2 separate regions of the Homo sapiens genome follow, and region 1 is linked to region 2. Evidence: fine-mapped expression QTL. Tissue or cell type: whole blood. Region 2 holds a variant in brackets; the other region holds the start of a gene. All regions are shown on one strand. Distances are between the middles of the regions.

The links. PIP is the estimated chance that this variant, and not a neighbour inherited with it, causes the effect.
Region 1: SEMA3B starts here. The variant in region 2 is fine-mapped to the expression of SEMA3B in whole blood (TOPMed, PIP above 0.99).

The regions. Positions count from the first base shown.
Region 1 is chr3:50,265,857-50,272,251 of GRCh38, reverse strand. It overlaps SEMA3B (semaphorin 3B), which reads right to left and starts at 3,105. Exons shown (of 17, transcript NM_001290060.2): 1 at 2,903-3,105; 2 at 1,968-2,125; 3 at 1,757-1,819; 4 at 1,243-1,362; 5 at 1,071-1,164; 6 at 772-891. The coding sequence starts at 3,011. SEMA3B-AS1 (SEMA3B antisense RNA 1) reads left to right here and starts at 4,881. Exons shown (of 2, transcript NR_110702.1): 1 at 4,881-4,971; 2 at 5,365-5,611.
Region 2 is chr3:50,141,860-50,149,319 of GRCh38, reverse strand. All of the region lies in intron 1 of SEMA3F-AS1 (SEMA3F antisense RNA 1), which reads left to right. Among named protein-coding and RNA genes, the nearest start is that of SEMA3F, 9.7 kb to the left of the region's middle. The variant G/C (reference allele first, on the strand shown) is at 4,087.

The DNA of each region.
Region 1 (6,395 bases), 120 kb before region 2:
GGTCTGCTCTGTCCTGCAGTGGCAGCATCATGGCTCACTGCAGCCTCCAACTCCTGGGCTCAAGTGATCCTTCCATCTCAGCCTCCTGACTAGCCAGGACTACAGGTGTGTGCATGCCACTGCCCCCAGCTAATTTTATTTTATTTTTTGTCTTGCTTTGTAGCCCAGGCTGGTATGAAACTCCTGTCTTCAAGCAATCTGTCTGCCTCAGCCTCCCAAAGTGCTGGGATTACAGGTGCAAGCCATTGTGCCCAGCCCCCATGACTCTTAGAATAAATGACTCTGGCCCCTGACAGTCCAGGCCCCCTTTTCATTGCTAGCTCTGCAAGTCTATTCCTTTGCTTGTTCTTGCATCCAGGCCTTTGCACTAGTTGCTCCCTCTGCCTGGAATGCTCCCTCTGCCTGGAATGCTCATCCCTAAATTTTGCTGGCTAGCTGTCTTGTGCTTGGGAATTAGCTCATACTCCCCTCAGCACAGCGGCTTCCTTTACCCAACCCCCTCCAGCCACCCAGTCTCCTTTTCCCTTCCTCCCTTGTCTCTCTCTGGCCTCAAGGCCATTGGACTTGATCTTATCATGTATGTGATCTGTGAACTCAAAGAGGTCACGGTCATACCTGTCTTGTCTGTCTCTGTGACGCCAGTGCCTGATTAAGGAGGGTATTTGGTAAGACCTGGCCACACCCACTGCTCACTTACTTTATGGGCCTTGCTTGGCACCTGCCCTGTGGGAGGGTGACGACCTCTACCCACCAACCCCACCAGCCTCTCACCATTGAGCCAGCGGGAGTCGTGTGGCTCTGTTCGGAGACTTGGACGTTGCCCTAGGCTGCGAAAGATGGTAAAGTCTCGTCCCATGAGGTCTGCTGCCACCCCTGAGTATAGCTCCTCCCCTGCAGACAGAGCAAGGGCCACTCAGGCAAATGGAGGGCTCTTGGGGCAGGAGGGCCTGGGGAGCTCTGGGAGTGAGTGAGGTTATGGGGGATTCCCTGGAGCTCTTGGGGGTCTTGGGACTTTGTGAGGTTCTAGAGTTTCTAAGGGGTTCTCTTGGGGCCTTAGCCCTTGGACTCACCCACCAGCACGGAGGCAGCCCGATGCCTGGGGTCATAAGGACTCTTCCCCTTGCCATCCTCTATCCTTCCTGGGTCCAGCCGGAGGACGGGCTCCTGGGAGGTGTGGCAAGTTGTGACTACCAGGCCCTTCTTACCCTCCTGACCTCCCTCCCTGCCTAGATCCGGCCTTACCTCTGCCCGGTGGCCCACTTCCACAAAGGCACAGGTTGGGTGGAAGGCTCCCGTGCCACAGGCCAGCAAATGGGTGCGGTTGTAGGCATGCAGCAACTTCACGAAGTTCATGCACTCAGTCTAGTAGGGTTGGAGGTGTGAGGCTTCCCCCAGGGACGTAGCCTTAAGAGGTCCCAGCTCACCAGTGGCATCCTCACCCCTCCCTCTCTTCGGCATCAGCCCAGGCAAGTACTAACATGGGCTACAGGGACCTGGGGGCCCTTGCTGACCAGCCCAGGCCTCACGAGGGTGGGTGTCTGGGGAAGCACAGGCCTGCAAAGCCTCCCATGACTCAGAGGCACCCCAGAAGAATTACACGAGCCCCCACCCTGACTCACCACCCCCAGACCTCAGCCACCTCGACCTCCCTGCCCTCATCCCAGCCAGAACAGGCAGGCCTCTGTTTTAGCCCTGCCCTGTCTCTGGGGTGAGGGGCTGACCCTCCCCACTCCCGGCCCGGGCAGCTGGCACTCACACCAATGTCCTTCCCTGCCCAGTTGCACTCCTCTCGCCATTCCACAGGGGCCGGCCAGGCCAGCTATCGGGAGGTTGGGGGAGAGGGGACACAGGTCAGGAACTTGGGATATTCTCTACCTCAGGGAGCCATTCCTCTGGGTCTCTCCAGGCTGGAGTGGGGTCCCAGGGCTCCTTCCCTGGGGAGTGCTGGGGTTGGGAGTCCCTGGCACCTTCTTGGCCCGCTTGCTGATGTTGTCCAGGTTGAGGGAGGCCACATGGTTCTCGGCACCCACAAACAGGCGTCCACGCTCCTCATCCACCAGCAAGGCCTGGTAGCAGCAGGTTCGCTCCAGGCTGAAAGTCTGGAGACCATGCCAGGCCTGGAGCTCTGCAGGGCAGGACACTGCTGATGACTCGCCAGCCATGCTGGAAGCCTCCCCCAGGTCCTGCCTGGTGGTGACTCTATCGGCCAAGGTTGCCATTAGGACCTGGCCTGTACACATGTGAGTTTACATGTGTGTGAGTTTACACACGCAAACCCAAGCCCACCCAGGTGCACGTGTGGAGCTGCCAGGGTAGGTGGTACATCCCCCCAGGAAGAGGAAGGCAGGTTGAACTTGGGCATGCTCAGACAGGTGGTGTCTCCAGGCGGGCGCACTGGGAGGCAAGGCTTATGGACACCAGAGTCCTGGGGGAGACTGGCATGCAGGGATGGCCAGAACCCCAACTCCCAAAAGTCAGGCTGAGAGTTCCTTTCCTGCCACTCCACCACCAGCCTGAGCTCAGCAGAACTGCCTATTCACTGCCACTGCCCAGGGGCCACCCTCCTATACAGGAGGCATGAGAAGGGGGCTCTGACTTCCCTGTTGCTCTGCTGAAGGAGTATCGCCTTGTTGGGGGTACTGAACGGAACAGAGACAAGGTCTGTTGCTGTGGGGACAGGAGGGGTCTTCCTGAGAAAGCACGAAGAGAATGTGGGCAGAGGCTGGGGGCTGAGGCCCGGACAGGGTTAACTGGAGGTGGCCTGAGAGTGCCCACTAATCCTACCAGAGTCTGGTGACAGGCACGCACATGGGGCAACAGCCAACACAGAGCCCCCTGGCCATACGGGGACCCTTTCCTGCCCACCTCAAGCTGGGCCCTCCCGCCTGCCAGGTGCACCTACCTTGGAAGGAGAGCCGAAGGCGTGGGGGGCTGGGGGCGGCACTCCCCAGCCCCACTGCCCAGAGCAGGGCCAGGCCCGGGATCACGGCGGCAGCCCCGGCCCGCCCCATCTCAGCAGCTCAGGGTGCTCAGGGTTCAGCGGGTGTGTGTGTGGAGGAGCCTTGAGCTGCCCTGGACTCTGCCCCAGGATCTGGAAGAGGAGTCAGCAGTGAGGGCGAGGGCGGGAGGCTAGGGGGGGAGTCCCCAGGGATCAGATTACAGCCCCTAGGGGAAAGAGGCTGGGGGGTCGCATTCCACTTCCGAACCCTCCCCTCCGAGGGTGCCCCGCCTGGCCACAATCACAGACACACCCACGCCACTGGGCACACCCTCAGGGTCACCCTGCACTGGCAAGCCCGCCTCACCACGTCACCCTTCCCAGTAATCTCCTCTCTTGTATACACACTCACAGACATTAATTCACAATGTGCCACCCACTTCATGCCAGCCTAGACCTGGGAGGAGGGATACTGGGAGACATAGACAAGGTCCCCATGTGAAAGGGGACAGAGTGCCAACAAGGAATCAGATGGATGCAGAGGGTGCCAAGTGCAATGAGCAAAACAAGCCAGTCAAAAGAGTGAGAGTGACAGGAGGGGGTCAGGCCTCTGGAGGTGGCAGTGTCCCCACAGTCCCGCAGAAAAACACAGAGACACTTTTGAGGCTGGAGCCAAGGGTGTGGGTGCCTGTGAATGTGTTTCCGAGTGTCCCCTTGTGATGTGCGCATGTGTGTAGTGTGTATGTGCATGTGTGTGCACATCTATGTGCAAATATATAGTGTGTCATATTGCACATGTGTGGATATGGGTTGGTGTGCACACACATGTGGCACTGTGCAATCCATGCAGTACATATGTGTGATATGTGCATATTTTGCACACAGATGTGTTGCACATTTGTGCATGTGCAAACGTGTGCACCCATAAGAATAGACATGTCTCTGGGCATGCAAGTGAGCAAATCCAACTGCAGCATCAATCACTCCATTCCTCAGAGGGAGAAGTGCTACCCAGGAGACCCAAGACCTGGGCAGAAGCCTCAGCCTCTGACTTGGGGACTGCTCCCAACCCAGCTGAAGCAGCCTCTGCATTTGAGCTTGAGGGCTCTCTCTCCACACCCCTGAGGAATCAAAGAGGGGCAAGGTGAGGCAGCCCTTCATTTGCACCCCAGCCTCCTGGCCTCGCTGAGCTGGCCTTCCCTCTCAACGCCTCCACAGCCTCTCTGAGCCTCTCCCTTCACTTCTCTCACCCCTTGAGTTCTTCCCCATCTTTGAGCCCCTTCACTCTAGGAGCCAGACACCTCCCCCTGGCCCTCAGCTGGGGCAAAGACCTGGCTGCTATGCCCACCCTCCTTCCCAGGGGTCAGCTGGGCAGGTGCTGGACACAGGAGCCCAGGGAGTGGGACAAGGTTCCAGGTGGGATTAAGCAAGTGGAGCAGCTGCTGAGGCAGGTTCCAGGCCCCTCCACCCACACTCCTGCCCAGCTCCTGGCCCCATCCCAGGCCAGGACCCCCACCTCCCTCCTTCCCTCCGCTGACACTTGCCGCTGCCTCTTCTCAGGTTCTAGAGGTCTTCCAGGCCAACACTGGCTGCCTTCTCACACTCCACCGAGGACTTCCGCAGCAGCATCTCTCCACTCTGGCCCCTTCCCACCCTGGGGCCGCTGGGGACCCTCTGACGGCTCCTTTAAGAAGCAGCCCCCGCCCCCACCAGGCCAGCCACCGCCCCACGCACCGCCCGCCGTGCCGTAAAGTTTAGAGGGCGGATCGGGTGACCGGGCAGGCAGCCGGGACCAGCTGGAGACGGCAGCCAGGCGGGAGTGGAATGGGCACAAGGGAGGGGCTGGTAGGGACGACCCCTCCCATATTGGGCCTTAAAGCAGAAGGGTGCCCCAGGTGGCGGTCCCAGAAGCCAGGTGGCCAGCCAAGGCAAGGGAGGAAGAAACCCCAGCTCCAGGGGCTCAGCAGGCAAAGGGAATCACTGAGTGGGGGCACCACCCGTGGACTCCAATATCTCAACCTCTCCCTCCACAGGTGGGGAGCTGTGGGGAAAGATAATGGGGAGCTCAGCTGCCACCTCAGTTCCCAGGGACCGGCTGGGGTGGCCGGGCAGCTGGAGGTCAGGGGAGGGGCTCTCAACTGGAGGTCGGATGGGCCCTCAGGACCCAGTCCCCATCCTTCCTCAACACTTGGGCCACTTAGTACTTCAGTGGCCTGGCCAGCAGTGGCTTCTACCATGACAGCCAGATAGGGGAGGGAGAGGAGGGCAGGAGAGGGGCAGACGCAGGAGGAGCAGCAAATCTCACTTCTGCACCACAGGGCGGGGCCCATCTGGAGTCCGCCATCCTGGACAGGTAGCTTTGCATCTCTGCTGAGAGGTTGGGGGGCAGACCATGTGACCTCCCTTCCTCTGGCTTCTCTTTCTAGGTTGGAGGTGGGAGGAACAACCCCCACCAAACCCAGAGCCGAAAACTGAGGGAGTTTTACAGACAGGACGGAGCTCCTGCACCTCGGAGCCTCAGTTGGGAATGACCTGGGGTCTTGTCCTGAAGCTGAGTCTGGTGAACGTGCCCCATTTGTAACATGAGGGGTACTTCTCTGGAGGGACTGTATGTTGACAGTGGCAGAGTGGAGCCCTGAAGTCCACCTGAGTGAATATACCAGGGCTTGAGAATGGGCTTTGATCCTTCCATCCCCGCAAAAGGCATTTTCCTACCACCTCCCAAGGCTGATGGGGCAGTGTGGGCATTTCAAGTGTTGCAGTTCTGTTGCCCAGCCCTGGATGCCTCCAGCCAAGCAAGGACAGAGGTGGGGGGCACATCTCCAAGTCCCCTGGAAGTGGAAGTGGGGCTATGCCCCTCCTTCCTGAGCCTGAGGACCTGGTATACCTGGCCTGGCCTGGCCAGCTGGCAGGTAAATAACAGGGGCCAGTGGGAGCCGCAGGGCCCTTCAGGAGGGCAAGTGGAAGGACAGATCCCTGCCTGGGCTCGTGGGCTTCCTGGATGTGGCCTTTTCCTACTCCAGGAGTAGCTGCCTCTAGCCTTAGAGGACCTGGGCAGGCTCTCCTGGCTCCATGCAAGCAGACAACATTCTTTGGCTGTTTACAGCTTTCCACCCAAGCAGCCAGGATCAGCAAGTGCCTCAGAGGCTCCCATCCACTCCCACTGTGCCCCCATAGGCCCTCACTGCCTTATGTTTTTCCAGGCCCAGGGGCCCTGTCTCTGTTTCATCACCCCGCACCTTCCTCCACCTGTGTTCACTCTGGGAAACGGTATCAGAAACCCCCCCGCCACCGCCATTATCTTTCCAATAGCCTGGGAGTCAACCCCCAGCCAAAAGGACTAGACTGTCTCTGTCCCCATTGAGTGCTGTGCCCTGTCCTCTGTCCTCTAGATGTGTACCCTCCCTTGAGTAGGAATGGAGGTCTCCAGGGATGGGAGGTCAAGTTGTCCCTGATT
Region 2 (7,460 bases):
TGTAATCCCAGCACTTCGGGAGGCCGAGGTGGGCAGATCACTTGAGGTCGGGAATTCAAGACCAGCCGGGCCAATATGGTGAAACCCCATCTCTACCAAAAAGTACAAAAATTAGCCAGATGTGGTGGCCTGCGCCTGTAATCAATCCCAGTTACTCAGGAGGCCGAGGAAGGAGAATTGCTTGAACCCGCGAGGCGGGGATTGCATTGAGCCAAGACTGCGCCACTGCACTGCAGCCTGGGCTACAGAGCAAGACTCTGTCACAAAAAAAAAAAAAAAACCTACAAAAATCTAGCTGGGTGTGGTGGTATGTGCCTGTGGCCCCTGCTACTCTGGAGGCTGAGGCGGGAGGATTGCTTGAGCCTAGGAGGTTGAGGCTGCAGTGAGCCGTGATTGCACCACTGCACTCCAGCCTGGGCCACAGAGTGAGACTCCATCTTGACCAAAAACTAAAACAGAAAACAAAGCCAAATCCTTGGAGTGGTCATCAACACCCCTTCACCCTGCACACCTCTTCCCCACCTCTCTGACTTGTGTCCTCCTCCCTCTTCCTCCCACTCCAGGCACACTCCAGCCTCAGGGCCCTGCAGCAACCGTTCCCTTGGCCTGGATGCCCATCCCAGACACCTCCATGGCTTCTCCCTCACCTCCTTCAGGCCTTTGCTCAGATATTACCTCCTCAGTGATGCCCATCCTGACCACCACCATCTCCAGCATTCTGCATCTCCACTTACCTTCCCTCTCTTCTTCCCTTACCTTCCCTCTCTTTTTCTTATTCCAACATACGATATAATTTACTTATTTTCATGCTAAGCTGCCAACCAAGAATGCAGAGATTGTTGTCTATCTATTGCTCCTCCTCCAGCACCCAGAATGGAGACAGACACGTGGTAGGTATTGAATGAATAACTCGATGGGGCTGTGAGCTGCTTTCCCCTCTCACCCTTACCTGGAGCTGAGAATGGGGCATGGAGAGATGCCCATTTGCTGTTTCCCCACACTGCTGAAGAGGTGGATGGAGGAGAGAGGGTCTTAAGTTGCAGCATCAAGGACTCAAGATAGACTCTGCTTTAACTTAAAAGGCATTGCAGCTTTAACCGTGAGCTCTCCAGGGACAGGCATAGTCCCTTAGGCAGAGGTGTTCCTCAGGACTAGGAGAGACCTAGGCAGCTCCCTGACAAAGCTGCGGTGACAGGCTCTGATCTTGGGAGGTTTCTGGCTGCCTCCCAGGCCTGCATCTGCTGCGCACACTCCCTCCATGTGTCTGTGTGGCCACAGTCCTGGGGGAGGGGGGCCCGAGGAGGGTCCTGCAGCCAGGACTGCAAGCTGAGATCTGGACTTACTTAGTTCCAAATGACTGGGGAATGTCCCTTCCATGACAGCGGTGGCGTGGCCTCCCCTAGTTCCTTGCTCCCAGCAGAGGAGTGGGGCCCAGATGAAAGCAGCCCCTCAAAAGGAGGGGGGGCTGGTGGGCAGACACTGGGCACCCTGTCATCCTGGTCCTCCTCCCTAAGCCTGGTTCCAGGTCATGCCCAAGGAGGAGTTGCGATATGAGATCACTGTCTCATATCTCAGACCAGAGATCTGAGGCCAGAGCATCCTATTTGGTCTCCAGCTTCCTCCAGCCAGGAACTGGAGAGGCTTCACCAGCAAGACCTCTGTGCACAGCAGTGCCCGGACTGGCCAATGAGGAGTGCTCCCTCCAGAGAATCTCCTCTTTACAGCACATGGCTTCAGTGCCTTGGAGGAGGGTTGGGGAAGCAGGGCCAGTACCAGGTGGGTGGGGAGCCAGGCCTGCCCTGGCCAGCCTGGTGCTTGCTCCTGAGCACTCCATCTAGAAAGATGAACCCTTTTGCTCCCTGTGTTGTGGTTGGTAGGTCAGTGAGGCCAAGTCTGTGCTCCTATCCTGGGGTTTCGGTGCCTTCTTGTGCTGTTAGGATTTGATTTTCAAACGTGACTGGGCAGAGTGGGGGCCTTGGCCAATCCTGACTTCTGACCCTTCACCCAGGGATTGGAGGCTTCACCGGTGCTATCTGTGAACTCCCGCGAAGAATTAGGCCTCAGGCTCACCTTGACTGGAACATCATTGTGTACCCATTTAATAGAGGGGAATGCCGAGACCTTGAGGAGTAAGGGCCTGGATGACCTTATTGGGGATTCCAGGCTAGGACCCCCTTGAATGTTGGACTGCAACCTCTGAAAGAATAAAGGACAACGGCTGACTTGAGGGTGATGGGGCATATGCCATAGTCAGATTTCAGGTTTTAAAACATCCCCCTGGCTACTGGGGTGCCAGAGAGGAGGCTGTGAATATCCAGGAGAGAAAGAACAGGGTCTGCCTAGAGCACGGGGGCTGCTGCCGGGTACCTTCAGACTTGGCCAGGTTCCCTCCTCCTTCCCTAGAAGCCCATCCATTGGGCCTGATCTGGAGTTTTGAGGTGGGGAGAGAGGCCTCCTCCCCGGCTTCTATATACCCCAGACACATGGCTCACTGGGTAGGTCTCCCTCCCCCACTCTCCTGAGACAGCAGTTTAAGATTTAATCCCAGGACAAGTTTCTGCAAAGCCCATGTTTGCTGCCAGAAGGAGCAGGGACCAACCTAGATGGAGGGATAAGAGACAGAGGAGGGGTGAGGAAGGGATTGCGGAGGGCTGCATGGGGAGAGGTCATAAATCCAGACTTCACACTCTGTCCTGCCTGGCTCCAGCATCCACAGACTAAATCAGGGAAACCTAGTTCCTGCCACCCAGAGGAATGCATTCATGTGGCCACAACCTGCCTGTGCACCTACTGTGTACCACCCCCTGCCCTACCTTAGTCATGGTCACAGCTCGCAGGGAAGTCTCTGGGCTCAAGCAGCAGCCCTGGCTGGCCCAGCCCTTGACAGGTCCAGGTTACCCAGGACACCAGTAGAGGGCACAGAGGGGCAATGCTGCTACAGAGGGAGACAACCACCCTCCCTCTACCACTGACATTTGGAGTCCTCATAGTCCCTGAGGGGAAACTGAGGCCTGTGCCCCTCTGCCTTGTCTTTTCTTTTTTCTTTCTTTCTTTCTTTTTTTTTTTTTTCTGAGACAGAGTCTCGCTCTGTCATCCATGCTGGAGTGCAATGGCACGATCTCGGCTCACTGCAACCTCCGCCTCCCAGGTTCAAGCGATTCTCCTGCCTCAGCCTCCCGAGTAGCTGGAATTACAGGTGCACGCCACCAAGCCCAGATAATTTTTGTATTTTTAGTAGAGACCAGTTTTCACCATGTTGGTCAGGCTGGTCTTGAACTCCTAAACTCGTGATCCACCTGCTTGGCCTCCCAAAGTGCTGGGATTACAGGCATGAGCCACTGCGCCCAGCCTCTTTTCTTTTGTCTTTGAGACGTAGTCTCGCTCTGTCGCCCAGGCTGGAGTGCAGTGGTGTGATCTCGGCTCACTGCAACCTCTGCCTCCTGGGTTCAAGCGATTCTCCTGCCTCTGCCTCCTGAATAGCTGGGATTACAGGTGTGTGTCACCACGCCCAGATAATTTTTTGTATTTTTAGTAGAGATGGATTTTTGCCATGTTGGCCAGGCTGGTCTAGAACTCCTGACCTCAAGTGATCTGTCACCTCGGCCTCCCAAAGTGCTGGGATTACAGGCATGAGCCACTGCACCGGCCGCCTTGTCTTTTTTTAAAGCACCCCCAGGACCATCTTCCTCCGCGGGTTGCCTAGCCTCTTCCCACCCCACTCCCCTCTGCAGTCCTCAGTGCTCCTCTTCTCTCTGTGCGCCCGGCTCCTGCCCAGGGAAGGGGAGGCATGTGGAAATCTGACTGGCTGGAACCAGGAGGAAATTCACCCCCGCTGTGTTAACCCCCCAGTCTCAGTGCTTGGATTTGAGGGTGGAGCCAGGCCAGGGTTGGTCTGCCACTCCCAGATTCCCCTGAGGGACAGGTCCCACAGATCACCTGCTCAGCCCCAGCTTCCCTCCCTGGACTGCCTGAGGCTTCACCCTTCCCTTGCCCCAGCTGCCCCACCAGCTGAGTGTGCCCAGCGGTCAGTACCCTCTATAGCCAAGGACATATGGACCCCAGACCAAGAGGGGTCATAACCTGCTG[G/C]GGGGGCCAAAGATGGGACCTTAGGCAGCACCCCAAGGCCCTAGGTTGACCATAGCCTCAGGAAACCCACGTTTCCCAGCCAGGGGTCTGGTTGGGCCTAGGCTATGCTATGGGGGCCCAGTTCTCCAGAGAGGGGCCGGGTAGTGCTGGCTGGGGCCTATTCTCTCAACAACATGGGTGTTTCTTGCTGGAGTTTTAGTTGCTCAGAGAGGGGACCCAGTGCTGGGGCCTTGGCCTGCTTAGATCTCTGGCTCGGTGTCCAGGCTGGACCCTTACCACCCTGTGGCTTTCAGGTAGGGAAGAGGAAAACATGTGGGCTGGGCTGAGGTGGGGACACAAGACATGTGAGCCCTGCCACCAGCCAGAGTTTAGAGGAAATTCTGTGTTGAATCCCTGAACATCCCCCTAGCTGCTCCTAGAGTTTTCTCACAATGGGGCTTATTGTGGGGGGAATCTTGGAGCTCCCAGCTGTCTGGACAGGTGTCAGTTCCTGCTCCCTTTGTCACCTACTGATCAAGGACACCCCCCGCCAAGAAAGATGGGACTGCGTGGCTGTGGGTCCTAGACTCTAGAGAACCCAACCCTACCCATGCTGTCCCCACAGGCCCAGGATGAGGCCTCCACATCTTCCCAGGCAGAGACCCTCACCCGGTACAGGCCAGACTGCAGACAAAGATACCACTTGACAGATAGGGAGACAGGGGCCCTGAAAGGTCTGCGTGGAAGGTCGGAGTCAGAACAAGCAAAGCACAGTTGGCCTGCTTTGTGGCCGAGGCAGAGGCAGCAGGGGGATCTCTGGAGGGGCTCCCAGGCAAACCTCAGGGCCTGGAGGCCCTCAGGTCACTCTATGGTTTCTGAAGGGCCACCCCTCATCATGTCTTCTATCATGTTGCCCTCAAGCCTTTGCCTAGGCTATTCTCCCACCAGGAATGCCTTTCCCTGTCTCCCTAGCGGGGTTCTCCTGGTCCTTCTGGCCTGGTTCAAATGCACTGTGTCTTGGTCATATGTCATTCATTCATGCTGGGTGTGGTGGCTCACGCCTGTAATCCCAGCACTTTGGGAGGCTGAGGTGGCAGATCACCTGAGGTCGGGAGTTCGAGACCAGCTTGGCCAACATGGAGAAACCCCGTCTCTATTAAAAATACAAATATTAGCTGGGCGTGGTGGCACATGCCTATAATCCCAGCTACTCGGGAGGCTGAGACAGGAGAATCTCTTGAACCCGGGAGGCGGAAGTTGTGGTGAACTGAGATTGCACCACTGCACTCCAGCCTGGGCAAAAAGAGGGAAACTCCATCTCAAAAAAAAAAAAAAAAAAAAAGATGTCATTCATTCATTCTGCAACCTCATGTCCTCCCAACCCTGTGTTGGCACCAGCCACAGAGACTGATTTCTCCACCCCAATTTGGCCTGAAATTTCAACAAAATTGTCTTGGAATAGTGGTAGGCAAGGCCTACAGGCCTAGAGCTGAGAGATGGGAGCCACCTCAGAAAGGCAGAAGGGGAGATTTTGATGGCCTAGAGTTAGGGGAATTTGAATGCCTAAGGACCCGGGCTCCACCCAGACCCCACACCTTGGAGAGGTCCTGTAAGGGCTGGGAGATAGACTCCAGGCAGAAAAGGGCCTGGCATCTAGGGAAACCTGAGCCTCTCAGAAGTGTGGAGCCTAAGCCGGGCATGGTGGCTCATGTCTGTAATCCCAGCACTTTGGGAGGCCAAGGCAGGTGGATCATGAGGTCAAGAGATTGAGACCATCTTGGCCAACATGGTGAAACTCCATCTCTACTAAAAATACAAAACATTAGCTGGGTGTGGTGGCACATGCCTGTAGTCCCAGCTACTTGGGAGGCTGAGGCAGAGGCAGGAGAATCGCTTGAACCCAGGAGGTGGAGGTTGCAGTGAGACGAGATCACGCCACTGCACTCCATCCTGGTGACAGAGTGAGACTCCGTCTTAAAAAAAAAAAAAGAAGTCCGGGCACGGTGGCTCATGCCTGTAATCCCGGCACTTTGGGAGGCCAAGGCGGGTGGATCATGAGGTCAGGAGATCGAGATCATCCTGGCTTACACGGTGAAACCCTGTCTCTACTAAAAATACAAAAAAATTAGCCGGGCGTGGTGGCGGGCGCCTGTGGTCCCACCTGCTCGGGAGGCTGAGGCAGGAGAATGGCGTGAACCCAGGAGGCGGAGCTTGCAGTGAGCCAAGATGGCGCCACTGCATTCCAGCCTGGGAGACAGAGCGAGACTCCATCTCAAAAAAAGAAAAAGAAAAAGAAGTGTGGAGCCTGGGCAGAGGTGGAAGCCCTGCAGCTCTGGCCTTGCTGTCCACAGGGCTCTTCAGACCTCACCAGGCCTTACTCGACCTACCCAAACATCAGAATCATGAGGCTGGGGCTGGGCGTGGTGGCTCACACCTGTAATCCCAGCACTTTGGGAGGCAGAAGTGGGCAGATCACTTGAGGTCAGGAGTTCAAGACCAGCCTGGCCAACATGGTGAAACCCTGTCTCTAGTAAAAATACAAAAATTAGTTGAGTGTGGTGGTGGGCACCTGTAGTCTCAGTTACTTGGAAGCCTGAGGCAGGAGAATTGCTTGAAGCCGGGAGGCAGAGGTTGCAGTGAGCCGAGATTGCACCACTGCACTCCAGCCTAGGGACAGAGCAAGAATCCTTCTCAAAAATGAAAGAAAGAAGAAAGAGAGAAAGAGAGAAAGAAAGGAAGGAAGGAAGGAAGAAAGGAAAGAAAGAAAGAGAGAGAAAGTAAGGAAGAGAGGGAGGGAGGAAGGAAGGAAGGAAAGAAGGAAGGAGAGAGACAAAGAAAGAAAGAAAGAAAAAGAAAGAGACAGAAAGAGAAAGAGAGAGACCAGACGCAGTGGCTCACGCCTGTAATCCCAGCACTCTGGGTGGCCGAGGCAGGTGGATCACCTGAGGTCAGGAGTTCAAGAGCAGCCTGGCCAACATGGTGAAACCCTGTCTCTACTAAAAATACAAAAATTAGCTGGGCTTGGTGGCGCACGCCTGTAGTCTCAGCTACTCGGGAGGCTGAGGCAGGAGAATTGCTTGAACCTGGGAGGCAGAGGTTGCAGTGAGCCCAGTGCACTCCAGCTTGAGCGAGAGAGTGAGACTCTGTCAAAAAAAAAAAGAAAAAAGAAAGAGGAAGGAAGGAAGGGAGAGAGAGAGACAGAAAGAAAGAAAGAAAGAAAGAAAGAAAGAAAGAAAGAAAGAAAGAAAAGAAAAGGAAAGAAAACAAGGAAGGAAGGAGGGAGGGAAGGAATGAGGGAAGAGAGAGAAAGAAAAGAAAGAAAGAAAGAAAGAAGAAAGAAAAAGAAAGAAAGAAGAAAGAAAAAGAAAGAAAGAAAAAGAAGAGAGGAAGGAAGG